Linked DNA regions of Homo sapiens. The protein of the gene in region 2 purifies or fractionates together with the protein of the main gene of each other region. This does not show direct contact. Each region holds a gene or a part of one and is shown on either strand. Other genes may lie near its edges. The genes, in order: DEK, BAZ1B and SMARCA1.

What was found.
Region 1: the proteins of BAZ1B (region 2) and DEK purify together in Homo sapiens (affinity purification with western blotting; 2 studies listed by BioGRID, with this or other methods). This does not show direct contact.
Region 3: the proteins of BAZ1B (region 2) and SMARCA1 purify together in Homo sapiens (affinity purification with mass spectrometry; 2 studies listed by BioGRID and IntAct, with this or other methods). This does not show direct contact.

The regions. Positions count from the first base shown.
Region 1 is NC_000006.12:18,253,526-18,263,882, forward strand, and holds part of DEK (protein DEK), read right to left. Parts: coding exon 10,318-10,357; intron 4,881-10,317; coding exon 4,779-4,880; intron 4,538-4,778; coding exon 4,428-4,537; intron 2,931-4,427; coding exon 2,836-2,930; intron 2,327-2,835; coding exon 2,206-2,326; intron 1-2,205. UniProt on the Homo sapiens protein: Involved in chromatin organization.
Region 2 is NC_000007.14:73,468,605-73,478,961, forward strand, and holds part of BAZ1B (tyrosine-protein kinase BAZ1B), read right to left. Parts: intron 9,966-10,357; coding exon 8,264-9,965; intron 1,880-8,263; coding exon 1,741-1,879; intron 1,047-1,740; coding exon 913-1,046; intron 1-912. UniProt on the Homo sapiens protein: Atypical tyrosine-protein kinase that plays a central role in chromatin remodeling and acts as a transcription regulator. Involved in DNA damage response by phosphorylating 'Tyr-142' of histone H2AX (H2AXY142ph).
Region 3 is NC_000023.11:129,483,238-129,493,594, reverse strand, and holds part of SMARCA1 (SWI/SNF-related matrix-associated actin-dependent regulator of chromatin subfamily A member 1), read left to right. Parts: intron 1-519; coding exon 520-555; intron 556-1,501; coding exon 1,502-1,654; intron 1,655-3,402; coding exon 3,403-3,535; intron 3,536-4,509; coding exon 4,510-4,658; intron 4,659-6,457; coding exon 6,458-6,577; intron 6,578-10,357.

The DNA.
Region 1 (10,357 bases), on a different chromosome or scaffold from region 2:
ATGTTACAAAACTATACATACAAGACCCAAGTTAATTAACCTGGTTTCAGACCTACATTAAACATTACAACTAATCTTTAGGAAACTACAACTTATGTAGAGTTTTGGTATTGTATGGTATCAAAAAGAGAATATACACAATTATCTAAAAAGACTTTAAAAATATTCTTTTTATGTGAGGCTCGGTTTTCTTCATATACTTATTATTTTGAGAGAGGATCTCATTCTGTCACCTAGGATGGAATGCAGTGGCATGAAAATAGCTCACTGCAGCACTGACCTCCTGAGTTCAGGCTTCCACCTCAGCCTCCCAAGTGGCTGGGATTACACGAGCGTGCCTCAGCGCCTGGCTAATTTCTTCTTGAGACAGTCTCACTCTGTCACCCAGGCTGGTCTTGAACTCCTGAGCTCAAGTGATCCACCTGCCTCGGCCTCCCAAAGGGCAGGGATTACAGGCATAAGCTACTGCATCAGGCCCTTCATAGATTTTAAACAAAACAATACATTGCAAAAGACTGAATGCGGCCAGGCACGGTAGCTCACGCCTGTAATCCCAGCACTCTGGGAGGCCGAGGCGGTCAGATCACCTGAGGTCAGGAGTTCGAGACCAGCCTGGCCAACATGGCAAAACCCCGTCTCTATTAAAAAGACAAAAATTAGCCAGGTATGGTGGCACACGCCTATAATCCCAGCTACTGTAGAGACTGAGGCAGAAGAATTGCTTGAACCTGGGAGACAGTGGTTGCAGTGAGCAGAGATTGTGCCACTGCACTCTAGCCTGGGCAACAGAGTGAGAATCTGTCTCAAAACAACAGTAACAACAACAGTAACAACAACAACAACACAAAAAGACTGAATGCAGAAGCAAATGGTAATCAAGCTGTTTTCTCTTAAGCCAGACATTAAACAGATGTACAAAAACATAAAATGCCACTCTTTCATTCTTTTGAAAAGTTATTTTTCCTAGAAAATATTATTTTTAACATTTTAAAATAAAAATTTTTCAGTTCTAATGTCAAATACAGTGAAGATCAAAATAACTCATATTAAAAAAAGCTCTTGGGGTCCTCACTAATTTTTTAAGAGGGCAACAGTATCCTGAAACCAATAAATTGGAAAACCACTGAGAAAAAGATAAATATAAAAATATCTGTCATAACAACCTAGTAAATTGCTTCTGAGGAAATAGTGATCACCTTGCCTCACACTAAATCCTTAAAAAGTACAAGTATAGCTATAGTAAAAGTTAGAAAATAAGAAGTATTTTGTCTTTAAACAAGCCAATTTAAAACACCAAAAATCATCATACCCCTTGCGTTTGTAGTTGTATAACAAAAGTTTACACTTTAACTGCTGTTTATCTGTCCTCGTGCAGCTAATGGTAATAAGGACCAAGGGCGGACGAAAACGAAGTCCTAGAGCTATTTTCTGGTTTTGATTAATGCCATCTCCCATCAGAGATGGCATTCCCCTGAACTCCTAGGCCTGCTAGATCTCTCACACTTCCTTTCCTGTCAAGATGGGGAAGAATATAAAAACATTTGCTGACAGACCTAAATCACACTAAAAAGGCAAGGTCATGTAACACTTCAACAGACATTTTAAGTCACCTATGTCATTCGTTACCATTAAATAATTAGGGCAAACCTACTAGCTTTTAGGAAGAGTGAGAAAACTGTAAGGCCATTTTACTTCCCTGTCTGGCTCCTGGGCTCTGCTGCAGATTCTGGAAACCCAATATAGGAAACTTGTAAGAGTTAGCTTTTAAATGTCACTTTTTAATACTTTATTCCAGGATCTAGGAAAACATCCAGTTCTAATATACTCCCTATTTTGTCTTCACTTGATTACAGGTTGCACCCCTTCCCTCCAGCCTTGCACCTCATCCTCAGCCCAACCTCTTCCTATTCTTCCAGTGTCTTCTAGATACCTAACCCTGACTACTAGTACTTTCTGTCCCTTCTGACATTAATTCACTATTCTTAACCTTATATCCCTTGTATCTGATTTTCCGAAGCAACATACCCCTATGGCATCTATATTATTTCTATCAGGAAATTACTGCAGATACGTCAACAGAAGGTATAGTCTTTGAATGTAGATATGAACGAATACTGACAGCAATGCTGTTATTAATCAATTTTTGTTTCATATAAAGAGGCTATGAATAACTGATTTATGAAAAAAATAAAAATTGATCCTCACTTTGCCAGAAGGCTTTGGATGCATTAAGAAATTCAAGATCCTCTTCACTAGTTCACTATTTACACCTGATCTCTCCAAATCAAGAACCTCACAGATGCTCTTTAACATGGCATTTCTAAATCTGAAACAGAAAATGGAAGAAACCAAGGTGTTAATATAGGAAAGCTTACATATGTTCTCCACAATATAAAGGGAAAGCCAACCAAATTGGCTCAGTTACATACATTTAAAAAAGTGGCCAATGCTTCTATGAATCTTTTTTCTTTTTTTTTTTTTGAGACAGTTTCGCTCTTGTTGCCCAGGCTGGAGTGCAATGGCCCAATCTTGGCTCACCGCAACCTCCACCTCCCAGGTTCAAGCGATTCTCCTGCCTCAGCCTCCCAAGTAGCTGGGATTACAGGCATGCGCCACCACAGCCGGCTAATTTTGTATCTTTAGTGGAGACGGGGTTTCTCCATGTTGGTCAGGCTGGTCTCAAACTCCTGACCTCAGGTGATACGCCCGCCTCAGCCTCCCAAAGTGCTGGGATTACAGGTGTGAGCCACTGTGCCTGGCCCGAATGTGATTTAACATTAAAAAATAAACTTAAAGCATATTGATCAAAATACAGTATTTATAAAAATAACTTACTTTTTCAACATTTCTTCCTTCTTTTTATATTGGACACTTCCTTTTTCAAATGGAAAGCCACTGAACTGACCCACATTCTTCTTTAATGAGGACACCTGAAAATGTTCCTTATTATTAATGGTATTTATTACCCAGTAATGTACACAAGAATAAATTCAAAGCCAATTCAAAGTCAACATCTTTATTTTCATACCTGTCTGTAAGTTACAATACTGGCTGAACAGTCAACCAATTCAATATGGGTTCAATATTCAACATTTCTTATTCAAAACTGAAAAATGTATTTGTCATTAACATATTAACATTATAAAAATCCTACAAACTTAAGTCTCTGAAAAGAACAATTTGAACAAATTTTCACTGGGGAGTTTTTACCACAACCAAAAGTTACCTGACAGTACCAGGGGATGTGGAAAGTTACTATTTAAAAATATATCCTTTTCATAAGTAATAAAGTTACTAGTAATTCTTCTTTTCCAAATCAAGAAGGACTTTATTCTTTCAAAGTAAAGAATAGCGAGTACCACAAAAAGCTAATACCGTTCACTAGTTATGGGACTTGTGTAAATTAAATTGGTTTAAGGATTAAATGAGATTAACAGACTCACTGAAAATAAATTATGTCATGCACCAGACATTCTATTCTACTTCAGACATTCTAACACCCAACTTTACTTTGCCCACGTACAACCTAAAGCAGTTCCCTCGATTATATAATATACTAAGTCATATGTACAGTATAATAACAATCCTTTAGCAAAGAACTATCATCCAATTTATCAGGTATTTGCTAAAAATGAGATACAATTACACCAAATTCACTTTGTATGAGATTTGTATGAGATACAAATGATTTTGCCTCTTATTTGTATGAGATACAAATGAGATCATATGTATGATCTCATACAAATCATACCGACATTCACTTATTCTGAATGTCGAGAAAATCCAAAAACATGAATTTCTTTCAATACATTTAAAGGTCACTAAAACCTTTCATCACAATTTGGATTTCGTAATTTGAAATTTCAGTTTGGAATAAAAACTACTACAGGAGAAAGAGCCCTAGAGCTGGGCATACTGGCTCACACCTGTAATCCCAACACTTTGGGAGGCCAAGGTGGGAGGACCACTTGAGCTCAGGAGTTCAAGACCAGCCTGGGCACATGGCAAAACCCTGCCTCTACAAAAAGTAAAACAATTAGCCAGACACAGTATGGTGGCATGCACCTGTGGTCCCAGCTACTTGGGAGGCTTAAGCGGGAGGAACACTTGAGCCCAGGAGGTTGAGGCTGCAGTGAGCCATGTATTGCACACTGTACTCCAGCCTGGGTGACAAAGTGAGACCGTGTCTTAAAAGAAAGAAAAAAAAAAGAAAAAGAAAAAGAAAAAAGAAGACAGAGCCCTGGATATTATAATCCAAGTGCTAATATCCAGCTGTGTTTCCTGTGATAAATCATTTAATAAGTATATACCTCAGTCTGCTCAGTCATAAAGTGTGGAAATTGAACTAGTGGATCACTAACATTTACAGAAATTGATTCCATTGTGAAGTAATATACAAGTAGGTTTAAAGTGTAAAAAGGTCTTACAGTGCCTGGCCTGTTGTAAAGCAGTTTGTGTAGATTTCTAAGTTCATCGGTTTTCTTCTTACTTAGAAAAAAATGTATCCTCTCAATTTCACAAAGTTTCTGCCCCTTTCCTGGGGAAAAAAAAAAATCACAATTAAATACCTATGGCTTACTAATACATTTACAAAGTTAATTTAATGAGAATTATTTTCACAGCATAATTTACATGTAACTCTGCTCTTACAGAGCAAATTAAATAAAATTATACCAAAAGTATAAAACACTACCTTGCTGATACTAAGCTACAAACCATCATTTTCACAAATTTAGGCACTTTCACCACAAAATGAAAGGAAGCTAGAATAAACTTACCTTGTGCAATTGTAAATGGCTCTCTCTGTAAGGAAGAGACTTGCATTGTCAACCTCTCTACTTTTTTCTTTTCCCTCTTGCCTTCCACGATGAGACTCTTTTCTAGAAATTAATTTAGTATTTCTTAATTAACAAAAAGCTTAAACATTGTATTAACTTTATTAGATACACATGTAGAACAAAGTCCCCAAAACCTAATACTTTATTCTTCTTCTGAGCATGGTTTTGGAAAGCAAATGACATAAAAGAGGAAAACACTTGATTAATTAATAGAGCACCATGAAAATTTTTTCAGAGTAACATTTTACTCACCTGGCACTCACAGGGACTCAGTTAAAAAAAAAAATTAGAAAGCAAACTAATTTTTATCCAACTAAAATTATTGCCATTACAGTCCAGTCACTTCGTTTGTGAAAAAAATCTAGCTCTGTTTAATCTTTGGACATAATTCTATTTAATAATTGAGATTCAGTTTGCTGTACTTCAGGAATAATCAAATTTAGACTGGGAGATTAAGAACTTCAAAAGATATATAGAGAACAATAACAATTTAGTAAACTGACAAAAGAAACACAAATAAAGACTTCCAGGCAGAACAGCCTGAAGTACGTGGATAGGATAAAACTCTCCAAGTTTACATTTAATGCAATCAACTGGGAGAGCATTACTTTGTAGTTTATGAATAACATTCCTAATGATGACCATAAGTCACTCAAAGTTAAATTGTTTAGTCACAAAAATCTACGGTGAGGCGCGGTGGCTCATGCCTGTAATCCCAGCACTTTGGGAGGCTGAGGCGGGCGGATAACGAGGTCAGGAGATCAAGACCATCCCGGCTAACTCGGTCAGGAGATCGAGACCATCCTGGCTAACTCAGTCAGGAGATCAAGACCATCCTGGCTAACGTGGTGAAACCCCATCTCTACTAAAAAATACAAAAAATTAGCCAGGTGTGGTGGCTGGTGCCTGTAGTCCCAGCTACTTGGGAGGCTGAGGCAGGAGAAAGGCATGAACCCAGGAGGCGGAGCTTGCAGTGAGCCGAGATCGCACCACTGCACCTCAGCCTGGGCGACACAGCAAGACTCCGTCTCAAAAAAAAAAAAAAAAAAAAAAAAAAAAAAAAAAAAAAATCTAGAAAACAGGTAGCATATACTTCAAAATTCAAAACATTAAGCTCCATTTATCTAAAATAAAATCATTTTTTGAATGAAATAAAGTCAGATAAAAGAATACTATATACTGCTCGAGGTTCTGCCATTTATTTAATGCCTGTGTTGTGCAGCTGCACTCAATACTAAGAGGGGATAAATGGATGATAAAAACTGCGTATCTTTTGAAAAAGATGCTACTAAAGAAATGAGACATAAATATACGCCAATATAAAAGATAACAAAACATCTTAAGAAAGATACACAAATAAATTGCTGTGCACTGAGGAGGAATTGATTATTTTGGGACTAGAGAAAAAGGAACAAAGCACGTGTGCTGGCTTTTAAAGACAGCTTAGATTTAGTAATGTAAGGATTCGCACAGAAAGAATACTTCAGGAGAAAGGGCTATCAACAGGTATATTCTGGCCATGTTGTACAGAATGAAGACCAAACACACTAAAACAACCCCTACTATCACTCAACTTCATCAACTTAGTGATTTAAACTATTTGCTTGTCTCTGATTACTAACTACAAGCTAATGACTTCCCAGTCAATCTCCAAGCCACAACTTTCATCTGAGATTCATATTAACTAATATTGCCTCAGTATCTGTGAGGGATTGGTTCCAGGACGCCCCTCAGATGCCAAAATCCATGGATGCTCAAGTCCCTTATTTTTTAAAAAAATGGTGTAGTAGTTACATGTAACCTATGACCATCTTCCCATATACTTTATATCATCTGTAGATTACTCATAATGACTAATACAACTTAACTGATATGTAAATAGTTGTTATACTGTATTGTTTAGGAATAATAAAAAAATCTGTACATGTTCAGTACAGATGCAACCATCCATTTTTACCAATTTGTGGTTGATTGAATCCACAGATGAGGAACCCACAGATATGGAGAGCCAACAGTATATGCCTGTCTGTCATCTGGACAGCTACAATTCATGTCCTACAGGCACCTAAACTCAAAATATTCAAAAGAAAAATCATAATCATCTCCAAACTTGCTCACTTTGTGAATTTTTTTCAAAAAACATTAATACCATCCACCCACCTGCCAAAGACAGAAACCTAAGAGTCATCTTTTACTAGTCATTTCTCTCACTTCCCTTTTCCCCAAAATCACTGCCAATTTTGGCTAATCTGACCCCTTTCTTAGGACAGACTTCAGAGGATATATGAGAAAGCCTGGGTGCCTGGGCAGAAGCCTCCTGCAGGGGTGGAACTCTCACAGAAAACTGCTACTCAGGGCCAGGCGTGGTGGCTCATTCCTGTAATCCAGGCCCTTTGGGAGGCAGAGACGGGCAGGTCACTTGAGCTAAGGAGTCTGAGACCAGCCTGGGCAACATGGTAAAACCCTGCCTCTACAAAAAATACAGAAAGTACCCGGGCATGGTGGCGCATGCCTGTGGTTCCTGAGGTGAGAGGATTGCTTGAGCCTGGGAGGCAGAGTTTGCAGTGAGCTGAGATCATGTTACTGCACTCCAGCCTGGGTGACAAGTGAGACCTTGTCTCCAAAAAAAAAAAAAAAAAAGAAAGAAAACCTCTACTAGGGCAGTGTGGAGTGGAAAGGGGAAATGGGGGGTGGACCCCTAGATTCACCACCAAGGCTCTATTGGCTAGTGGAGCTGTGGGAAGGGGGCTGCCACCTCCAAACTCCAGCATGGTAGAGCCACAAGCAGCTTGCATCCTGAGCTGCCCAAAGCCTTGGGACCCCTCACCCCTTGCACCAGCGTGCTCTGGATGCCAGACATGCAGTAAAAGGAGATAATTTTGGAGCTTTAAGATTTAAAGACTGCCCTGCTAGGATTCAGACTTGTAGGCCGGGCGCAGTGGCTTACGTCTGTAATCCTAAAACTCTGGGAGGCTGAGACGGGCGGATCACCTGAGGTCGGGAGTTTGAGACCAGCCTGACCAACATGGAGAAACCTTGTCTCTATTAAAAATACAAAATCAGCCAGCTGTGGTGGCATATGCCTGTAATCCCAGCTACTCGAGAGGCTGAGGCAGTAGAATCCCTTGAACCAGGAGGCAGAGGTTGCGGTTAGCCGAGGTCAGGCCACTGCACTCCAGCCTGGGCAACGAGAGCGAAACTCCGTTTCAAAAAACAAACAAACAAACAAACACAGAAAAACAAAAACCAAACAAAAACCAAACCAGACTGTGTGGGGCCTATTGCACCTTTCTTTTGGCCTTTCTCCCTTTTGGAATGGGAATTTTACCCAATGTCTGTACCATCACTGTATCTTGGGAGTAAATAACTTGTTTTTGATCTCACAGGCTCATAGGTGGAAGAAACTCATCTTCAGATGAAACTCTGGACTTACAGATTTGGGACTTCTGTGTTAATGCTGAAACAAGACCGGACTTTGGGGGACTACTGCGAAGGCACAACTGAATCTTGAAATGTGAGAAACATATGAGAGTTGGGGGACCGGGGGTGCAATGATATGCTTTGGATGTTTGCCCCCTCCAAATTTCGTGTTGAAAAGTGATTTGCAATGCTGGAGGTGAGGCCTGGTAAGGTGATTAAATCATGGGGGCAGATCCCTCATGAACGGCTTAGCATGGTAATCCGTGGTGGTGAGTGAGTTCTCTCAAGATTTGTTTAAAAGAGCATGGCACCTCCCTCTACAACTTGCTCCCACTCCCAAATGAAATGCCTGCTCCCCCTTTGTCTTCTGCCATGATTGGAAGTTTCCTGAGGCTTTCACCAGAAGCAAATACTGGCGCCATGCTTCTTGTACTGTCTGCAGAACCACGAATCAATAAAACCTATTTTCTTTATAAACTACCCTGCCTCAAGTGTTTCTTTATAGTAACGCAAAAAAAAAAAAAAGCCTAATACAGAAAGTATTTCACTGTCTGGCTTCCATGATGCCTCAGTTCTAAAGTTAAATATTCAGGGTTAAGTAAAATAAAAACTTTCACAATTCTACTTGTCCCACAAACACCTCAAATTAGTAAAAAGAATAATAAATCACAGCTACAATAAAACTATTAGGGGATAAAATTTCTACAACATCATGTTTTTAAAAATAATTTGTCTAGAACAAAACATGGGATTCTTTCAACTACCAACTCTTCCCCAAGCATTACTGTGTTGGCCACTTACAGTATATTTACATGACTTCTCTAATTTTTTCCTGACATGAAGAAAATTCACCATTTCTTTGGCATCTCAACCCTGCCCCCACCAGAAGACCAAAATACAAACAAAAAATTGGAGAAAAAGTGCAGAGCCTCTTTGGCTAGCAGCGAGATAGTGCAGCCAATTTTGTTGTTGTATTAAAAATAATTTTAAAATAACATGTTGTTAAGCAATAGTTTATGTGAAAACTTATATTTAAAAAGCCATGCTTTACTTAAATATGCCCTTCTTAGGGCACATACCACTTTAAACAAACAAAAGGCACACCTTGTAATCTTAACCCAGATTGTGACCACAGGCTGGTTGAGGCTTAAAAAAAATCCGGGTTTAGGAAGAGCGCTTCAACCTCTTCCCAAGTGTGGCTGAGTCGTAAACATATACGAAATAACCGCAGACTAAGCTAATATCAAAGAATGCTAAGAGATGCGACTCGGATTTTTAAATGTTTGGAAACATGTCAAGAAGCGGGTACACCTGAAACAGACACTGCATGCATCCTGGATAAACTGCCGCAGCACACTCCTCTATTCAGTCAAGTTTCCGTTTCACACCTCCAGTCAAATCAGGGCTCATATCGCCCTCCCTTAAAACAGACACAGGTTCGAAACCGAGACAGTGCTGGGCTCACATTTAACTTTCTTTCAGAGTTCACTTTCTTCATTTTTAACTACTTTCTCAAGTAGCAACAGCTTTCACCGCTGTTTGCCAGGGAGGGAAACTTTTTGGTAAATGTAAAAATATTCGAAAGTATTCAAATACTTCCGGGTCTAGCCTTATAACTTCAGTCTTAACGGGCTGCACCAAGACCTTACAATAACTTCAAAAGGCAAAAGATGTGTAATGAAAAGGACAAAATTAGAACATCCACTTAGCAACTTCAAAGGTGCACACACACAGGTAAAAAAAAAAATCAAATCCAAGACCTACAAACTTCCCGTCAAATGATGAAATGTTAACGAACGTTTAGAGCGGACGAGAAGTCGGCTGCACTCCAATACATCTCTACCACGCTAACAAATACTTTAAAAACCGGAATACACAAAGTCAATTCTACGCCATCGCTCAAAACAAAAGCAGATAAATTGTGCACACATTCTCGCTGAAAATCACTCCGACTTCACGCCTCTAAACACCAAAAGAGCAAGAAAACTGTTTCCTGGGTGAAAAATACAAAAAAACTTCGGTCTGAAAAATTCATCAGTTGGGATGCGACTCCCCCCACCTTTTTCCTCCTCCTCCTCCTCCTCGTCGTCCTCGTCCTC
Region 2 (10,357 bases):
TTACAAACTGAACACATATACCCGGCACCCAGATCAAGAGAAAGAATATTACCAGTGTCCCTACATGATCCCCTCTCAGTCACTCATTTTTCGTTAGGTATTTGCCATGTTTCTCCTCACAAGAATTTTAAGAACCTTATCTGTCTTGTTTGCTGCTATACCCCTAGCGTATGACAAACTGCTTCACAAATAGAGATTCAGCATAAACACTGAATAAATTAATTTTAAAAGTAGAAGAAGAGGGTCAGGTGCAGTGGCTCACACTTGTAATCCCCAGCACTTTGGGAGGCCGAGGTGGGCAGATCACCTGAGGTCAGGAGTTTGAGACCAGCTTGGCCAACATGGCGAAACCCCGTCCCTACAAAAAATACAAAAATTAGCCAGATGTGGTGGCACACACCTGTAGTCCCAGCTACTCGGGAGACTGAAGTAGGAGAAGTGTTTGAACCCAGGAGGTGGAGGTTGCAGTGAGCCGAGATCACGCCATTGCTCTCCAGCCTGGGCAACAAGAGTGAAATTCCGTCTCAAAAAAAAAAAAAAAAAGAAGAAGAAGAAGAGGACATCTAACACTGCCCTTCTTAGACCCCATACCTCAATTTCAGCCCTTGAGGCACCTACAAAGGCTTCCAAGGGACAAAGTTTGAAAACTGCTCCTATAAAAGCTAATACCCAAATATCCTCATATTCAAGCTCTTCATCTTCTCACACTATGCTTAGAACAAAGGTGGTAATCAAACGTGGGTTTCTCTCCTTCTTTCTACACATTTCACATCTACCTACTTCACTCAAATAGATCTAAGACCACAATAAAGAAATTCTGCAAATGGAAAACGTGACAGAGGAAAAGCAGTCCTTAATGTTGAGCCCACTTGAGCAGGGTGAAATAACTCTTAGATATACAGATATACTCACTGCGAGGACAGTAATCCTCATCACCAGAGACTGTGTGGTCTTTGCAGTGATGGTTGAATCGGTAGTCAATGCTGTCATGTACCCAGCCTTTTTCAATGAATAATCCTGGAACTTCATCTGAGAAGAGCCAGTATCTACAAATCACAACCAGTATTAATAAGACAGTGAATAGATCAGGATTGCAGGATGATTTTACTGCTGGAGAAGATAATACAGAGTATCACTGAGCATTCAAAACCACAGTTTACAGAATTCTTCCTCTTCAGAACTCTAGACAGATAAAAATTGCAAGGTAAATCAAAGTATACGAGAAATGTTGAAACTGGAGACTAGCTTAATGTTCGTAATTTGTATAATTTCTTTCTTTTTTAAATTGAAATGGGGTCTCGCTATGTTGGCCGGGCTGGTCTTGAACTCCTGGCCTCAAGCAATCCTCTCGACTCAGCCTCCCAAAGTGTAGGATTACAGGTGTGAACCACCACGCCCAGCCCTAATTTGTGTAACTACTAATATTTCTCCTTTAGGTTTCACAAAATGTATGTATTTAAAACCTACTGCCATTTTTAAAGACTTGGATTACATTTCACCTATCACCATCATGTAAGCTTCCTACTTGTGGTATATGCAAGGGCAGGAATATGTCTTACTTAACTTTGCAACTCTAGCATTTGGCAGTTAATATTCAATAATCATCAACAATTCTGTTTCCAAAAAGAATTGGAAAACTGAAGAGAGAAGCTTGTCTATTCTTGTACTTTAGAAAATTTTCCTAACTAATAGCAATGTAAATAGTCCTAAAGAAAACAAAAATTTGGTTTAGGAACTGACCTATTATGGTTTCGATCTGTGCCAATAGGAGTCCTGCGCATGACTAGTTTGGCCTTGGCAATCCCTTCCTGGAAAGCTTTCTCAGCAGCTGCTTTGTGCTTCCGTATTCGTTCTTCTTCAGCTTGGCGTTCCAGTTTCACTGTTAAAAATAAAAAGACTCAAATCAGATATTTTCCTAGTAAATCCCACTCTTACAAATTAAATAAAATATGGAGTAAAAAGTGCCTAGTATACAGTAGTTATCAAATCTTAGTTTGCTTTCTCTAATTCTAATCTGTTACAAGAAATTACATGTAAGGCAGCAACATCTAGTCCTCCTACACTCCTTGAATTTGTGGTGACATCTCATCCCTCAACTCAATGCAAAATCTTTTATCTCCAAAATATCACTTCTTTTTGTTTTTGTTTTGAGGCAGAGTCTTGCTCTGTCACCCAGGGTGGAGTGCAGTGGTGCGATCTCGGCTCACTGCAACCTCTGCCTCCTGGGTTCAAGCAATTCTCCCGCCTCAGCCTCCTGTGTCGCTGGACTACAGGCACACACCACCGTGTCCAGCTAATTTTTACATTTTTAGTAGAGACGGGGTTTCCCCATGTTGTCCAGGCTGGTCTCGAACTCCTGACCTCAACTGATCCACCCGTCTCGGCCCCTCAAAGTGCTGGGATTATAGGCGTGAGCCACCACACCCAGCCAAAATATCACTTCTTAATATATTTTAAACAATCCTGAAGAAACAGTTAACAGTCCATAAATAGGACTAACTGAAACATCTTCTGACAGGTGCACCTACAGGATCCTCAAAAAGATCACGATAAATCAAACTAGTAAAATAACTATTTCAAAATAAAACATATTTCAGTCCTGAGGAATCTGACAGTAATTTGGCTTAATAGCCCTGATGACAAGAAAACAAACCTGAAAAGCAACAGCAGGGACGCACTTGTGGATAATAATTATTTTACATTGAACACCTATTTTTCTAATTATTCTGCAAGTTACTGTTAATGATAAAAATTTTATTTCTGATCATTCATTAATTAGGTTTATTCAGTTAGAAATTTCCCTCAACAAAAGCAGCCCGCTAATTTTGTTAAGTTTTTCCATAATTGTCACAAACCTTGACACCATAGGGTACATGGCAATGCTATTTACAATGTCACAATTTTTAAGAAGTGTTTATTATTTTTTTAGAGATAGGGTCTTACTATGTTTGCCCAAGCTGGTCTCAAACTTCTGGGCTCAAGCGATCCTCCTGCCTCGGCCTCTCAAAATGCTGGGATTAGAGATGTGAGCCACTGCACTCAGCCCCAATAATTTTTAACCCTGATTGTCTATTGACAATAACATCTACAATAAGATGTAAATCTGGAAAATGCATCTGTCTAAAGATGTTACTTTAAAAACTTAAGATAAATTCCATTTATTTAAAACATGGAATTTGTTACCTTTGATAAACAGTTTTCTAGCCCAAGTGAAACTGTGTATTTGTAACAATGGTTATAGTAGAAAATAGCACAAAGGTAAATGATTAAAAAAAAAAAAAAGCGAGAGAGTGAGTGATGGCCCAATTACAATCAAGGAAAAGTTCAGTCTCCCAAGACTACAAACAAACATAAACCAACTTAGGACAAGTCACCAAAGGAAGACCAAATTCTGTCTCAGAGGTTACAGCACTGAACTAGTTATCCAAAGACCTGAACTCTAATCCAAATACTGATCTTGGTAAAACACTAATATTCTGTCTCTTGTTTCCATACAAATAACAGAGTATCATCTTCTTTTCCTTCTCTTAAGATAAATATAAAACACAGTGGAGCAGTCCAAAAATGCAAGAAGAAATTATTACGTTTCAGATAAAATAGAGCTGAAGGTTTTAACCTACATTCTGCTTCATCTGGAACACAGTTATACTTTTTTTTTTTTTCTTTTTTTTGAGACAGAGTTTCTCTCGTGTTGTCCAGGCTGGAGTGCAATGGTATGATCTCGCCTCACCGCAACCTCCGCCTGCCGGGTTCAAGTGATTCTCCTGCCTCAGTCTACCGAGTAGCTGGGATTACAGGCATGTGTCACCACGCCCGGCTAATTTTGTATTTTTAGTAGAGACAAGGTTTCTTCATGTTGGTCAGGCTGGTCTTGAACTCCCAACCTCAGGTGATCCGCCCACCTCAGCCTCCCCAAGTGCTGGGATTGTAGGTGTTGAGCCACTGCGCCCGGCCGCAGTTATACTTTCTTGATAGGTATTGTTTTGTTTTGAGACGGAGTCTCACCCTGTCACCCAGTCTGGAGTGCAACGGCATGATCTCGGCTCACTGCAACCTCTGCCTCCCAGGTTCAAGCGATTCTCCTGCCGCAGCCTCCCAAGTAGCTGGGATTACAGGCGTGTGCCACCACAGCCAGCTAATTTATTTATTTATTTATTTATTTATTTATTTTGAGATGGAGTCTCGCTCTATCATCAGGCTGGAGTGCAGTGGTGTGATCTCGGCTCTCTGCAACCTCCAACTCCCTGGTTCAAGCGATTATCCTGTCTCAGCTTCCCGAGTAGCTGGAATTATAGGCCGAGTAGCTGGAATTACAGGCACCACCACACCCAGCTGATCTTTTTTTTTTTTTAAAAAAGACAAGAGTCTCGCTCTGTCCCCCAGGCTGGAGTACGGTGGCCGATCTTGGCTCACTGCAACCTCAGACTCCCTGGTTCAAGCAATTCTCCTGCCTCAGCATCCTGAGTAGCTGGGATTACAGGCATGCGCCACCATGCCAGGCTAATTTTTGTATTTTTAGTAGAGACAGGGTTTCACCGTGTTGGCCAGAATGGTCTTGATCTCCTGACCTCGTGATCTGCCTGCCTCAGCCTCCCGAAGTGTAGGATTACAGGCTGTGAGCCACCGAGCCTGGCCTGTTCATATGTCTTTAAAATGTTAATACAATGGCCAGGGGCGGTGGCTCATGCCTTTAATCCCAGCAATTTGGCAAGTTGAGGCAGGCAGTTCATTTGAGGTCAGAGTTTTGGGACCAGCCTAACCAACATGGTGAATCCCCATCTCTACTAAAAATACAAAAATTAGCTGAGTGTGGTAGCAGATGCCTTGTTATCCCAGCTACTCAGGAGGCTGAGGCACGAGAATAGCTTGAACCTGGGAGGTGGAGGTTGCAGTGAGCCAGATCGCACCATTGCACTCCAGCCTGAGCGACAGAGCGACGCTCTGTATCCAAAAAAATAAATAAAATGGAAAGTACACATTACATATGTATACTCAGGCACAGTATGCATACATATGCAAAAATATTTCAATGGCCTTAAGTAGTGTAAACTAAAATTTGTTTTAAAAGGAATATACATTTTCTAATGAAAGAACTATTCAAGCCGGGGTTTGGTGGCTCAGGCCTGTAATCCCAGCACTTTAGGAGGCTGAAGCAGGAAGATTGCTTGAGTTTAGGGGTTCAATACCAGCCTCCACAAATAATAAAAAGATTAGCCAGGCGTGCTGACACATGCCTGTAAGTCCCAGCTGCTCGGGAGGCCGAAGTGGGAGGACCACTTGAGCCCAAGAGGTCAAGGCTGCAGTGAGCTGAGATCACACTGCTGCACTCCAGCTTGGGTGACAGAATGAGACCTTGTCTCAAAATAAAATAAAAAAGAAAATGTTGAAAAAGAACAAGCTGGAAGATCAACACTTCCCTATTCCGAAACTTACTACAAAGCAAAGTTATCAAGACAGTGTGGCTTTTACATAAAGACAGACATACAGATCAGTGAAATAGAATTCAGAGTCCAGAAATAAGCCAACGTATCCTACAGTCATATGATTTTTGACAAGCGTATCAAGGCCATTCAATGGGGAAAGGTTTGTCATTTCAAAAAACGGCACTAGGACAACTGGAGAGCCACATGCAAAAAAAAATAAAGCTGGACTTTTACCTTACACTATAAAAATTAGCTGAAAATAAAAGACCTAAATTTCAGAGGCAAAACTATTAAGACATTTGGAAGAAAACAGGAGTAAATCTTCATGACCCTGGATTTGGCAAAAGATCCTTAAATCTAACACCAAATCTATAAGTAACAAAAGAATAAATAGATAAAATGAACCTCATCAAATTTAAAAAACTTTTGTGCTTCAAATGATACTACTAAGAAAGTGAAAGGACAGGCCAGGTGCAGTGGCTCACAGCTGTAATCCCAGCACTCTGGGAGGCCAAGGCGTGCGGATCACCTGAGGTCAGGAGTTCGAGACCTTGCCTGGTCAACATGGTGAAAACCCACCTCTACTAAAAATATAAAATTAGCCAGGTGTGGTGGCACACGCCTGTAATCCCAGCTACTCGGGAGGCTGAGGCAAGAGAATCACTTGAACCCAGGAGGCAGAGGTTTCAGGGAGCTGAGATCACGCCACTGCACTAGCCTGGGCACAAAAAAGAGCGCAACTCCGTCTCCCCCAAAAAAAGTAAAAGGACAACACGCAAAATAGATGAAAATATTTGTAGACCAGGTATCAGACAGAGAATTGTATCTAGAATATATACAGAACTCTTACAACTCAATAATAATCAGATAACTCAATTTAATAATGGGCAAATGATCTGAATACTTCGCCAAAGATACACAGGTGGCCAGGAGACACATGAAAAGATGGTTCAACATCATTAGCCATCAAAGAAATGCAAATCAAAACCACAATGAGATACCATTTCACACCCACTAGTATGACTATCATCAAAAAGTCAGAAAATAACAAGTATTGATGAGGAAGGAGAAAAGTCAGAACCTTTAATTCACTGCTGGTGGGCATGTAAAATTGTGCAGCCACTTTGGAAAACAGTCTGGCAGTTTCTCAGATGGTTAAACATAATCATATGACCCAACAATCTTATTCCGAGGTATTTACTCTAAAGAAATTTAAGTATATGACTACTCAAAAACTCATACATGAATATTTATGGCAGCATTGTTCATAATAGGTAAAAGATGAAAACAATCTAAATGTTTATCAAGTGATGAATGAGAAACAAAACGTGGTATATCCAAACAATGGAATATTATCCAGCCATAAAAGGGAATGAAGTACTAACACATGCTACAACATGGATGAACCTGGAGAACATGCTAAGTGAAAAAAGCCAGCCATAAAAAGGCTACATATTATATGATTGCATTTACATGAAATATCCAGAATAGGTAAATCCATAGATGCAGAGAACAGATTGGTGGTTGCTGGGGGATGTGGACAAGGGAGAAGAGTGAGTGACTTTTGGGTTTTCTTTTAAAAATGTTTTGGGGCCAGGCATGGTGGCTGGCCCGGCATGGTGGCTGGCCGGGCACAGTGGCTCACGCCTGTAATCCCAGCACTTTGGGAGACTGAGGCGGGTGGATCAGGAGTTCGAAACCAGCCTGGCCAACACGGTGAAACCCCATCTCTACAAAAACACAAAAATTGGCCAGGCATGATGGCGCATGCCTGTAATCCCAGCTACTCGGGAGGCTGAGGCAGGAGAATCGCTTGAATCCAGAAGGCGGAGGTTGCAGTGAGCCAAGATCAAACCATTGCACTCTAGCCTGGGTGACAGAGCGAGACTCCATCTCAAAAAAAAAAAAAAAAAAATGTTTTAGAACTAAATAGAGGTGGTCTATTTTGTGACTGGCTTCTTTCACTTAGCATAATGTTTTCAAGATTCATTCATGTTGTAGCATGTAAAACATTATGCTAAGTGAAAGTCACAACAGACTATTTATTATACAATTCCATTTAGAGAAAATGCCTAGAATAGCAAATCTATAGAGACAAAGTAGACTAGTGGTTGCTCAGGGCTGGGGAGGATGGGCGAATGGGGTAATGACAGTTCATGGGTAGCAGGTTTCTTTGAGATGATAAAAATGTTACAAAATTGGCAATGGTTGTACATTATCTGTGACTCTACTGAAAACACTAAATTATACACAATAAGTGAACTAATTATACTGTATGTCGATTATTTCTTAATAAAGCTGCTTTTTAAAAGTTCAGATTCGATGGAGCCATCAAAGCCCAAAATTTTTAAGTTCTTAAATCTTAAAGGACAGATTACTATCTGAGTTGGTGACCGTGCTAGGGGCTTCAAATACCTTGTCAATCAATTTTACAACAATCTTATCAAGCATATGAGGAAAGTGAGGCACGGATAAGTAATCTGCCCAAAGGAACACTGTACAGCTAAGTCAGAGCTAGAACCTGAACCCAGGTCAGTCAACTCCCAAGTCCTATGTTGTTTCCACTATTTCTATTTGTAGATTTGGTCCTTTACTGAACCCAGAAAAGATGCCAACATCACATTAACTTATTAACTAATCAGAATGCCAGGCTGAACACTCCAGCTGAAATATGAAATTATCAACAGAACTAATAAAAAATAAAATACATACCAATAGGTGCTGGGTTATTACATACAGAAATAAGTAAACAAACAGAGACCCTACCATTACCTCAGTAATTTCCTTTCTTTTACTATCTTCTACAGAGCTTCCCCTTTTCTCTCAGCATGAAATTTTACCTTTCATTTCTCTTTCCTGGATTTCCCGTTCCTTCTTAGCTTGAATGGCAAGCAACCTTCTGCTCTTCACAGCACTAATCATGTCTTCAGCTTCTGTATCTACTTGGGGCTCAAACTTCACAATTTCTTTTTTCCTATCAGTTTTGCCTAACCCATTCTCAACTTTTCCATTTTCTTTATTTTTGGCTTCCATTTCTTTCCGTTTCTGTTTCTCTGCTCTCTTCTTATCATTTTCTTCCTTCAACACAGCAAGCCGTTCCTTCCACAACTCTGCAGACATCTGCTGTCTGGTCTCCATGTGGTCTTGCACTGAGTATGTCATGAGGATCCGGTGGCACAGTGCTGTCAAGATCTGTAGCTTCTCCTCTGACGTCAGCTCAAAAAATTCAGAGGTCTCCAGCTTTTCTAGGAACTCATCTTGTACCTCATTATCCTCAAATGCAGCTGAATCTTTATTGTCATCTGTGTCTGAGCCCTCGCTTTCCTCCTGAACATCAGATCTGCGCAAGCAGAGCCGCACCAGCTCTGAAACAGAATGCAGAGTCAAGGGGATTTCCGACAGCTTCATTCCCAATTCACCATAGTCTTCTGCTATCTCATCTTGTAGGAGGGTCTGTAAGAGGATGACCAACACCCTGTTAAGGTATAAAAAGCCACCCTTATCTGCACTCAAGGCTTCCATAAGGGACACAGCAGTAATAGGATACTGAGCATCTGGTAAAAGTAGCCCAGAATAACAGCTCAAGAATTCCACCACCATGGCCACATCCCCAAACAGCGTGTTGGGCAGCCCTTCAGGGGTATCCACCAATCTGAATGCTGGAAGGTTTTTGCCAGTTAACTCTTGGTCCTCATACCGCTTCTGTTTTTCTAATCTCTCAAGCATTTCTTTCTCTCTTCGTTCTTTGGCTTTTTCCTTCAACTTCTTTTTCAGCTCCTCCCGTTTCTTTTTCAAATATTCTTTCCGTTGTTCTTCAGACATAGAAGCCCACCTCTTTTTGTGCTCTAGAAGTTCATAGCGTTTTTGAACAAGACTTCGCAATTCTTCTGGGAGACGAGCTCTATCTTCACTAGAGAGAAGACGAGCTGTTTTGGAGATAACACAGGACAGGGCGCTCCTCTTGTCCTCCCTGTCTTTGTTTTCTTTGTAGTATGCAATGAGGTGTAGGGCTGCAGGAGGCAGATGTTTATGAGGTTTACTAGAGGTCCTAGGTGTACCCCCAGAATTCCGTGGGGCTCGTGTCATCTTCTGCGTGCCTTTGGCCATATCCAACAAAGTCATCTGCTTCATTTTGGTTTTAGGAGTCTTCAGTCCTTTTTTGGGAGATTTGGAATTCCCTGTGGATTTCTGTCCATTCAGGATGCCTTTGCTTCTGCCCTTTGCCTTCAAAGGCTTGTCACTGTGCTTCCCTGGTTTCTTGGCAGGTGGGCCTTTTTTAGGAATGTGAAAGTTAGTGTGCAGCTTATTGGGCGACATCATCTTCATCATTTCTTCTAGATGTTCTTCAGGAGATTTGGAATTCTTTGAGTTCTTCACTTTGAGTGGCGAGCCACTCAATGACTTCTTCAAGTGTACGTGACACCATAACTTAGGATTTAGTGGTGAACTAAGAGAAGAGTTGTCTGTCTTGGATTTCTTTGAGGGCTTCCTGTCTGGGGATCCAGTATTCTTCCTCTTAGTAGAAGGGTTGAGAGTCATATACTAGAATTTAAGAATAGGAGCAAAATTAATTTTAAAATCTAAAACTAACTTAAGCAACATTTAAGCATCTTAAAGGCCCTCTTCCCCAGCTATTCAGGTAAAGCTACATATTCATATCTCTTCATAGATACTTTGTCCCTGAAAAAACAAAGACATGAATGTTAGCTAATGTTTTTGTCATGTCAACACAAAATTCCCTTGACATCCAGACTTAATACTAGACATTTTTGCTATGTAACTAGTTCTGTTTATGTATATTAATGATTCTTAAATATTTAAACAAAATCTGTGAACCCCTCCAGCAGAAATAGTAGACAAAAACTATGCATACAATTTCAGAGAATCCATCCATGGACCCCAGATTAAGGATATCTGATCTACAAAATGGCAAT
Region 3 (10,357 bases), on a different chromosome or scaffold from region 2:
TTTCCTCTACGCCAAGGTGCCTCTCACTACACCACGCTGCTTTCTATACTGCCCCCTTTACCTGCTCTGCTGACTGTGACGGTGGTAGTTACCTTCTCTGCCTGAAACTTTGACCATGCCATCCATTTATTTTAAAAAAGATTGCCCATACTTTGTGATTATGCAAGTAATATATGACTGCTGAAGGAAGTTTTGAAATTAAATACAAGTATTTCTGGCCTATCTTTTTAGGTATATGTAATATGTATAAGTAATTGGTATCAGACTTCATATACTATATGTAAAGTACAGTATCCTGATACTATTTACTTAATATTATATTGTACTTTTTAATGTCCATAAAAAATAATTGTAAAAGTAATTTTAGGATAATATTTCACCCTATGGATGTACTATAAGTAATTCATCCCCCTATTCTTGATCGTTTAGGTTGTTTCAAAATTTTCACTATTATAAATAATGCTATAGTGAAAGTCCTTATACATAAATCTTTGTGCACATCTCTGATTATTTCCTTAGGATAAATTCCTAGAAGTGGAATTTCTGGGTCAAAGGGTATGAACATTTTTAAGGCTCTTGATGCATATTGCCAAATTGCTTTCCAGAAAGGTTGTACCAATTTATACTCCCAGCAGCAATGTATGAGAGTGCCCGTCTCACCGCCCCCTCATCAACATTGAGTATTATCATTTTTTTTAAATCTTCAAAAATGTTATTATGTTGTTTTAGTTTGCATTTATTTGATTACTAGCGAGAATGAACATTATTATTGTGTTTTCTAACCATTTGTATTTGTTCTGTGAGTTGTCTGTTCTTTTTTTCTGCTCATTTTTCTACTGGACTTTGTTTTTCTAATTAATTTGTATGAGATCTTTATATAGTAAGAATATTCATATTAATTTTAACATTCTTTACTAAATATCCCTGGATTGTCATCCTGATTTTCTTCATTACTTACCTGCTTGTTCCTTGTTACCATACTGATAGAAATCTTCTTACTTTCCCCTTTATCCGTTGCCCTCATTCCCATTTGTAAACCATTTTCTCTGTTGGTTGATCTTCTAAACTAATCATTCATAAGCTAATGGAAATGAAGTTGAGATTTCTGATATTTTACCTCCTAGATATATTTCAGCTCTCACTCAAAACGTTTTCATTATTATTGTTTTTAAATAATGTAAATGAATTATTACTTGCTTAGTTAAATTTGTGTATGTAATTGTTCTAAATTTGTATCTATCGATGTAAGCTTTTAAAGATTAGGAACTTCATTTATATAATATACTTTCTACAGAAATTCACACAGTACAGTATATGTATAGATGCTTACATATTTTTGAAGATGGAAGAATATTATAAAGTATATTTATAAGGAATATTATAAAGTGTGTGAAGATTTTCTATATGTATTTTAAATGTTTTTATTTGTTTCTTAAGGACCCTGATGGTCTAATTTTATTTTTCTCTTTTTCTTCTATCCCTTTATCAATAAAAAATAAAGGAAGCAATAGAGGCTTTTAATGCTCCTAATAGTAGCAAATTCATCTTTATGCTAAGTACCAGGGCTGGAGGTCTCGGAATTAACCTGGCAAGTGCTGATGTGGTTATACTATATGATTCAGACTGGAACCCACAGGTTGATCTACAAGCTATGGTTAGTAATCTTTAATGGTGTCAGAAATTTATCATAGCTCTGAATACTATTGCTATTTACACACATAAAGGTCATTTATGATAAAAAGGTAACAATTTTTGAGAGATTTTATAGAAGTTACAGTAGATTATCCTGGAAAACACAGTTGCTATGCTAATTGCAAAAACAAAAGAAATGAAAGCGAACAACAAACACACCCCAGATCCAACTTATAGCATTTATGTGTTGATTTTGGTTTTTTTCATGAAATAGAAATGTCAGTTTTTTCCCATTCCTACAGATTGAAGAGGACACATAAATTTGTTTTAATGAAAAGGATTAAAAAACAATCTCTTGTTATTATTCTGTTCAACAACTAAATATATTAAAATCCTTAGTACTGAAATTAAGAGAGGTAGGATTTTAACTTTCATAAAAAACAATTTGGGAGAGAAGGCAAAAAGGTAAGAAAGGAATATATTCCAGAAAAACACTTGCTACTTAATAATGATACCATGCAAAAGCTATTCTACACTTAAAAACATTTTTTTTTAGGGAGCAAAGTTTCTCTGACCTTTCATCATGACACTACAGGTAACCCCTTTGATATTTTGGTGTCATTTATTGAACTAGAGCTACAACTTCTCTCAATGTGACTCACATTTTCAGATAAAGAAATATAATTTAGAAGTAAAAAGATGCAAAATAACTTCTTAGGTTTTGAATATATAGCTATGGATAAGTGTCTTTTTGGGAGCAATGAAAAGTCATATGCCAATGAGGTATAACTTAGAAGGCTTTCCTTTTATAATAGAGAATTGAAAGGGATTGACCACTGGGACATTCCAAAATCAATATGCTTTGGCGTAATTATTATTGCATTACGATGGTATTGAACTACCTGTTTGATATGACTAACTAGGAGTAAGCCCCAGTAAGTTACAGTGTTACTGAACTGGAAAATCTAATAGTGATAGCACTTCATTTCCGTAGAAGTCTTAGTGTGCATCCCATCTTTCAGGATTTGCTGGTTCAGGTTTAATGTAAATATGTGCAGGGGATTGCATTCTGTTTGAAAAATGTGCTGTGTTGAAACTTTGTTACTAGGCTCTAGTGTTTTTATATTTAGTACAAGGCCTGTTTTGAACTTACATTTTTTTTTTCTCTACCACCCTCCTCCCTTTACCTATTTGCTCTAGCAGCTTCTGTGTTTTAAAAATACTCTCCCTAGATGGTTTTATACCACTAGAAGTTCGCCACCTGTCACCTGTACCAACTATAAACCATAGGACCAGTCCTAGGCTACTGAATAGTAAGGATAGTAATATCCCATTAATTTTTATAACTCTTTACTGCATATCCCTCAGTAAGCAGAAAGAAGTGCCTGATGATGAAATAAAGCAGACTTTTGCCACCATAGCAACCCTAACTACTTAATAAAATTCCTTGCTAGTTTCGAAGATGTTTATATTTAGTGGCTTAAAGTTACTTAGTAACTCAATCCAGAAACTTTCAGCTCCCTCTTTTATTCATCTTACAGGTGCTTTGCCCTTTGTCCTGGAAGTTTCCCATTAATGGTACAATATAATATTTGCAGATTTCTTTGTTCCCAGTGGTCTTTAGATATTCTCAATATTCATCATGCTCTTTTCCAAAGTGTCAGATCTAGAGAAAAATAACTAATTTTATTTTTAGAATTTTATAGCATATGATGGCTCTAAATTTTATCCAGAATATCCAATATCTTACATTAGAACTCTTTCTACTAGGATCGAGCACATCGTATTGGTCAGAAGAAACCAGTACGTGTATTCCGTCTCATCACTGACAACACTGTTGAAGAGAGGATTGTAGAAAGAGCTGAGATAAAACTGAGACTCGATTCAATTGTTATACAACAAGGTATTTATACATAGAAACTTAATTAGGTGTTTTTTGTAAAACACATGTAGTTTTCTTCAAAGGAGATTACTTTTAATAAAAGTTGACCAAAATTTGAAAACTTAGAGGAAAAATTGAAACATCACTGTGTATCCCATGAGTCTGTACAATTGTTATGTATCACCTAAAAATAAAAGGAAAAAATTTAAAAATGCTAATTGAGGCTGGGTGAGGTAGGTCATGCCTGTAATCCCAGCACTTTGGGAGGCCGAGGCGGGTGGATCACCTGAGATCAGGAGTTTGAGACCAGCCTGGCCAACATGGTGAATCCCTGTCTCTACTAAAAATACAAAAAATTAGCCGGGTGTGGTGGCGTGCACCAGTAGTCCCAGCTACTCAGGAGGCTGAGGCAGGAGAATTGCTTGAACCTGGGAGGTGGAGGTTGCAGTGAGCCGAGATCGCGCCACTGCACTCCGCCTTGGGCGACAGAGCAAGACACTGTCTCAAAAACAAACAAACAAACAAACAAACGAACAAAAAATGCTAATTGAAATCTTCTGAATTGAAACCCTGGCATTTGATATATGGAGTAGTTGAACATCACTAGCTTATTCTTGAATGTCAGTAGCATGCTTTTTGAAGTACCTGAGATTATTTAGCAGATAAAATGGCTACTTTTAAATTTTTGAAAACATATTAGAGGGTACCTTTTCATATAGAGAAGTTTGATCTGAAAACAGAGTTTGAACATGAAAAAAAGTTTCTGTCCTTCTGGGTTTTAACTGAGTTTTACAGAAGGGAATTTATATAGAAATAGAAAGTATGCTAGAAGAAAAACTTGTAGGGTTTATTAAACAAATAACCTTAATGCTCACTAATTTTTTGTTCTTTAAAGCTTTATGTGTGGTTAAATGTGATAATGTCTGATTAGAATGATTATGCCTTCTTTGGAATATGATTGATTGAATATGTACAATTTCAATTTTTATCATTAGGAAGACTCATTGACCAACAGTCTAACAAGCTGGCAAAAGAGGAAATGTTACAAATGATACGGCATGGAGCCACCCATGTTTTTGCTTCTAAAGAGAGTGAGTTGACAGATGAAGACATTACAACTATTCTGGAAAGAGGGGAAAAGAAGGTTAGTTAAAATAGCATTTTATTTTCATGCTGGATTGTTTTAATATCAACATACTTCAGCATACTTATATTTTCATTGTACATGTTTATCTGCATTATCTACATGTTTCAGGTAGCTCATATTCTCTCCAACAACTTGTAGATCTATTTCCAGGGGTAGATTAAGGCTTTAAAACTTTTTTTTGGTGAGAAAGACTAAGAACCAGAGTTTAAAATTGAGTGACCTTATATCTAATGCTTTATTGAAAATACTATATCTAAAAGCCAAGTAAATTTTGTGTTTAATCACATGTATAAGGAATGCTTTTTTTTTTTTTTTTTTTTTTTAAAGAGACAGGGTTTTGCTCTGTCACCCAGGCTGGAGTGCAGTGGTGCAATGATAACTCACTGTAGTCTCCACCTCCTGGGCTGAAGTGATCCTCCCACCTCAGCCTCCTGAGTAGCTGGGACCACAGGCATGTACCAACATGCACATCTAATTAATTTTCTTTTTTAGAGACAGGGCCTTGCTGTGTTGCCCAGACTGATCTTGAACCTCTGGCCCCAAGTGAGCCTCCCACCTCTGCCTCCCAAAGCACTGAGATTATAGGCATGAGCCACCATGCCTGACCAGGACTGTATTTTTATAATCTTTTTTTTTTTTTTTTTTTTGCACTGGACTAGAAATCATCTACTGATACATTGGTTAATTGAAAATCTTTTATAAAACATTTCATGAAATGCTAAATCACTATTTGTTAAAGCATAATAAGTTGTTTCAGAATATTGTAATTTTGTGTTTAGTTCACCTTCCCCTCTCCACAAATTATGGATAATTTTAAACATAAGTAAAAGTAGACAGAGTAGTATAATGAGCCCCGAAGTACTTATCACCTGTTTCTAACAACCATCAACCAGTCCTGTTCTGTCTATATCCCCAGTTATCTTTCCCCTCCTTGGATTATTTTGAAGCAAATCTCAGACATACTTCAGCTGTAAATAGTTCACTGTGTATTTCTAAAATAGAAGGACTCTTTAAAGATAATCATTATAACATTGTCTCACCTGAAAAACCCCAATAATTCTTTAATAACACCAAATATCCAGTTAGTATTCAAATTTACAATTGTGTCGTAAATATTTATACTTAAAAAGTTTTCTTTTCATTTTTAAATCAGAATGCAAATCAAAATACAAATTGCCATGGTTGAGATTTCATCTCTATCTTTTAAAATCTATAGGCCCCCTCTCCTGCCATGTATTGTATTCCTTGTAATTTATTTGATGAAAAGACTAGGTTGTTTGCCTTTTGAGTTAATCACAGTGTGGATTTTGCTGATTTCATCTCCATGGTGTATTTTACTATGTTTGTTGCATATCTTGTAAACTGGTTGAATTTGCTTTTCAGAAGAATTTTGTAGTTCAGGTAATAACCTGCATTTTAAATGATCTTGTGTTAATATGTTTCATACCAGTATGCAAAATGTGTATTTTTAGTCCATCTTTGCCTTTCTCTTAGCTTTAGCTATTTGTCCCATTTAAATTATGCAAGAGCAATTATAATGTGGGTACAACTTCACTGACAAAAGATTTTAAAGAAAGCCTAAGTGAGAGTACTTGGGAAGCACCATTTAAATATTTGAAATACTTGGGCAAGTAAAATTTGCACTTCAGGTTTGATGTTAGCATTGCATTCATACCTTGTAAATTAGCAGACTGGATATTTCATGTCAAAACCTGACTATTAAAAAGGTAGAGAATCCACAGACTTTTACAAGTAATTCAGTGATAATTTTCTCATTTCAATGTTTTCACCTTTAGACTGCAGAGATGAATGAACGCCTGCAAAAAATGGGAGAGTCTTCTCTAAGAAATTTTAGAATGGACATTGAACAAAGTTTATACAAATTTGAGGGAGAAGATTATAGAGAAAAACAGAAGGTAACTTTTTACTCTCAACCATTAGACCCTCAAATGAGCATTTCTCCCCATAACAATTATAAAATAACACTGGCACTTACCTATTATAATACCCTGCTCTAGAGTGAAATTTGATATAGGTCTAAATATCTCATGCAAGGTATATCTTTCGTTTATTTTATTGGTTTATCGTCGTCGTCGTCATCATCATCATCATCATCATCATCAATTTTTGCTGTTGCTGCTGCTGCTGCTACTACTACTACTACTGCTTAGTACTACTTTTGTTATTGAGAAGCAGTGTAGGATTGAGGTTGAATTCCTGAATTCTGGAGCTGAAATCTCAACTCTTGTCACTAATTAAGTGACTCTGGGTATTCTCAATTTTCTCATTTATCAAATGGAGGTTATAATAGTTACATCATAGAGGGATTCTGATGATGAAATGAGTTAATACTCATAAAGTTATTAGAATAATGCCTGACACTTAATGTTAACTGTATGAATAATAATATTAGTAACATTTAGTTACTTAAATGCAGAAGGACTTTGTTACATGTGGTCTGTTGAAGAAATGGGGGTTTTATTTATCTTGTTTTTTAAACTGAAATTAAGGCTGAGATTTTAAAACTTTTTATTTTTAAATTACTTTAGACTTACAAAATAGTTGTAAAAATAGTACAGAGCTAACCTATAGCCTTCACTCAGCTTCCCCTAATATTAACAATTTACATGTTAGTATAATGATCACAACCAGGAAATTAACACCAGTTTTTCTCCTAATGTCCTTTCCTGTGCCAGGAAAAGGACATTGGTTAATTATCTAATTAACTGGTGTTAGATTCCAGGGGATCTAATCTAGTATCCCACAGTGCATTTTTAAAAAAATAGACTTTATTATTTTTTCCTTCTATTTTTAGTTGACACATACTAATTGTACATATTTATGGGATACAGAGTGATATTTTGTTACATATATACAATGTGTAATGATCAAATCAGGGTAACTGGTATATCTACTGTCTTAGCACATTTGTGTTGCTGTAAAGGGATACCTGAGGCTTGGTAGTTTATAAAGAAAAGAGGTTTATTTGGCTCATGGTTCTACAGGCTGTAAGAGAAGCATGGTATCAACATCTGCTTCTGGTGAGGGCCTCAGCCTGCTTTCACTTATGGCAGAAGGCAAAGGAGAGCTGGTGTGTGCAGAGACCACATGGCAGAGACAGAGAGAGAGAGACAGTACCAGAGAGAGGAGGGAAATGCTAGGCTCTTTGTCAGGAACTAATAGAATGAGAGAACTCACTCATTACCTCGAGGACTACACCAAGCCCTTCATGAGAGATCTGCCCCTATGACCCAAACACTTCCTATTGGGCCCCACCTCCAACACTGGGGATCAAATTTCCATGTGAGATTTGGAGGACAAACATATCCAAACTATAGCATTCTGCCCCTGGCCTCCCAAATCTCATGCCCTTCTCACATTGCAGATTATAATCATTCCATCCCAATGGTCCTCAAAAGTCTTAATTTGTTCCAGCATCAGCTAAAAAGTCCAAAGTCTCATCTCAGTCTCAATGCAAGTTCCTTACAGCTGTGAGCCTATAAAACCAAAAACAAGATATTTATTTCTAAGATACAATGGTTATATAGGCATTGGGTAAACATTTCCATTCTGAAAGGGATAAATCAGCCTAATGAGAGGGGTACCAAGCCCCATGCAAGTCCAAAACCCAGCATTAAAGCTCCAAAATGATCTCCCTTGACTCTGTTTCCCCCATCCTGGGCACACTAGTGTGAGAAATGGGGTCCCGAGCCCTTGGGCAGCCCTGCCTCCAGGGCTTTGCTGGGTACAGCCCACGTGGCTGTTCTCATGAATTAGAGTATGGTGCCTGCAGCTTTTCCAGATAGGAGTTGCTTGATGCTGGTGGCTCTGTAATTCTAGGGTCCCTGCAACACCCCCAATTCCACTAGGCAGTGCCCTTGTTGGGGACTTTGTGTAGGAGTTCCAACCTCACATTTCCACTCAGCATTGCCTTAGTAGAGTCGCTCCACAGGGCAGCGCCCCTGTGGCAGGCTTCTGCCTGGTAATCCAGGCTTTCCAATACATTGTCTGCCATTTTTCCCTCTGTAATTGATAAATACCTTGTGGGGAGATCTTTCTCAGACTTTTACTCACTGATTTTAGCATGTACTGGTGGAGCTTGCCTGCAGTAGTTATTATTGTGGTGTTTGCCTAATGGTAATTTTGTATTTTCTTCATTCCATCTATATGTATTTATTAATTGATATTTTTCTGTGTGGAAGATCTACCCCTTCTCCCCAATTTATTTGTGTCTTCAGTTATTTATTTATATCAGTATGGACTCATGGATGTTTTGAGTTATAATCCAGTTCTATCTTTATATATTTTGTTGCTCAAATTGCTCTATAAAGCTGTTATATTTTTGAACTGACAGAAATGAATTTTCTTAAAATAAAAAAGCTCATTCTTAGGTACTTATTTTACTGAAAAATGAGAGGTGAGACATTTTGGTTTTGCACTGTAGCTAGTATGCTGATAATGCTTTGTTTCTGTTACTGCTTCTGATAGCTTTTAGTTTCTTGATTTGTATTTGTCAGGTTGTCCTATCTCTAATCTTCACTTAGACGGCTTATATTTTATCCTGCTGAGATGGAGGTGATGGCCTATCTGCACAGGGTGGAAATTGCCTTTCTAATATGCTTTTGAGATCTCATTATGTGATATAAGTTTTATTAATTTTACAATTATTCCTGCAGACTTATGGATAATAGGAGTGTTTTATGAAGTGGAAAAATTTTAAACAATGAAGTCTAAATACCAGTGGAGCTTCTTATCCACATTTTTAGAGAAAAATTAGTAAAATACTTGGCTATCTGTAACTGGTTTCCTTGTGCTTCTAATTTTAGCAAAGTAATGATGCGTAAAGAGAATTTTAATAACCATGATGACTTGTATTTTTATAATTAAATGTCTGACAGTAACAGTGGTGTCCAGAATCACATTTTTTTCTGAATATTCTGAGCTGAGATTATATTTTATTTCTGCCTCTTTGTGTTTTCTAGATAGGTTCTTAAAATAGGTTTAAATTATCTTTTGAGGAGAAGTGAAAACTTGAAAGAATATCATTTTTAAATCATGGAAACTATACATTGAGGTAGATTTTCATATATGGTTTGTTGAATCAGTTGCATTACTTTTACAACCATACCTGGTAAATTAAATCATGATGGCTGTGATCCTGAATAAATTAACCCAGATAAGTTAGCATTAATGTACTCTTATGTAAAGTAAACTAATTCGGTATGATTTATTCTTTTTTTTGAAAGTTGAGGAATTGGCCTTCAATGTTTGTTTCAAATTTGAATGCCTAGACCATCAAACAAGTATAGGTTAAATAGCTAAATACATCACTTGTAGAATGTTGGTTTAAATTATTATTAATTTATTTTTACTCCAATTGAGAAAGATAAAATATTGGTTATTTATAAAATATCTCTTTCATTACTGTCGCTTCACATTAATCCATCTGAAGGAAAAGCGAAATTTGTTTCATTGCTGTGGGAATTTCTCATTTTACTTAATAATCTCATTATAATATCGGTATCTCAGGCTCTTAGAGTTAGAAGGTCATTTATGTTAAGTTTCTTGTAATTAAGAAATCTCATCTTTAGCATCCAAGACAGATATGCAGCCTCTGAACACTGTAGTGTTGGGAATCTTATCCCTCTCAGGGTAGTTTGTTTCACTGTTTTATATTCTCTGGTTCTCAGAAAACT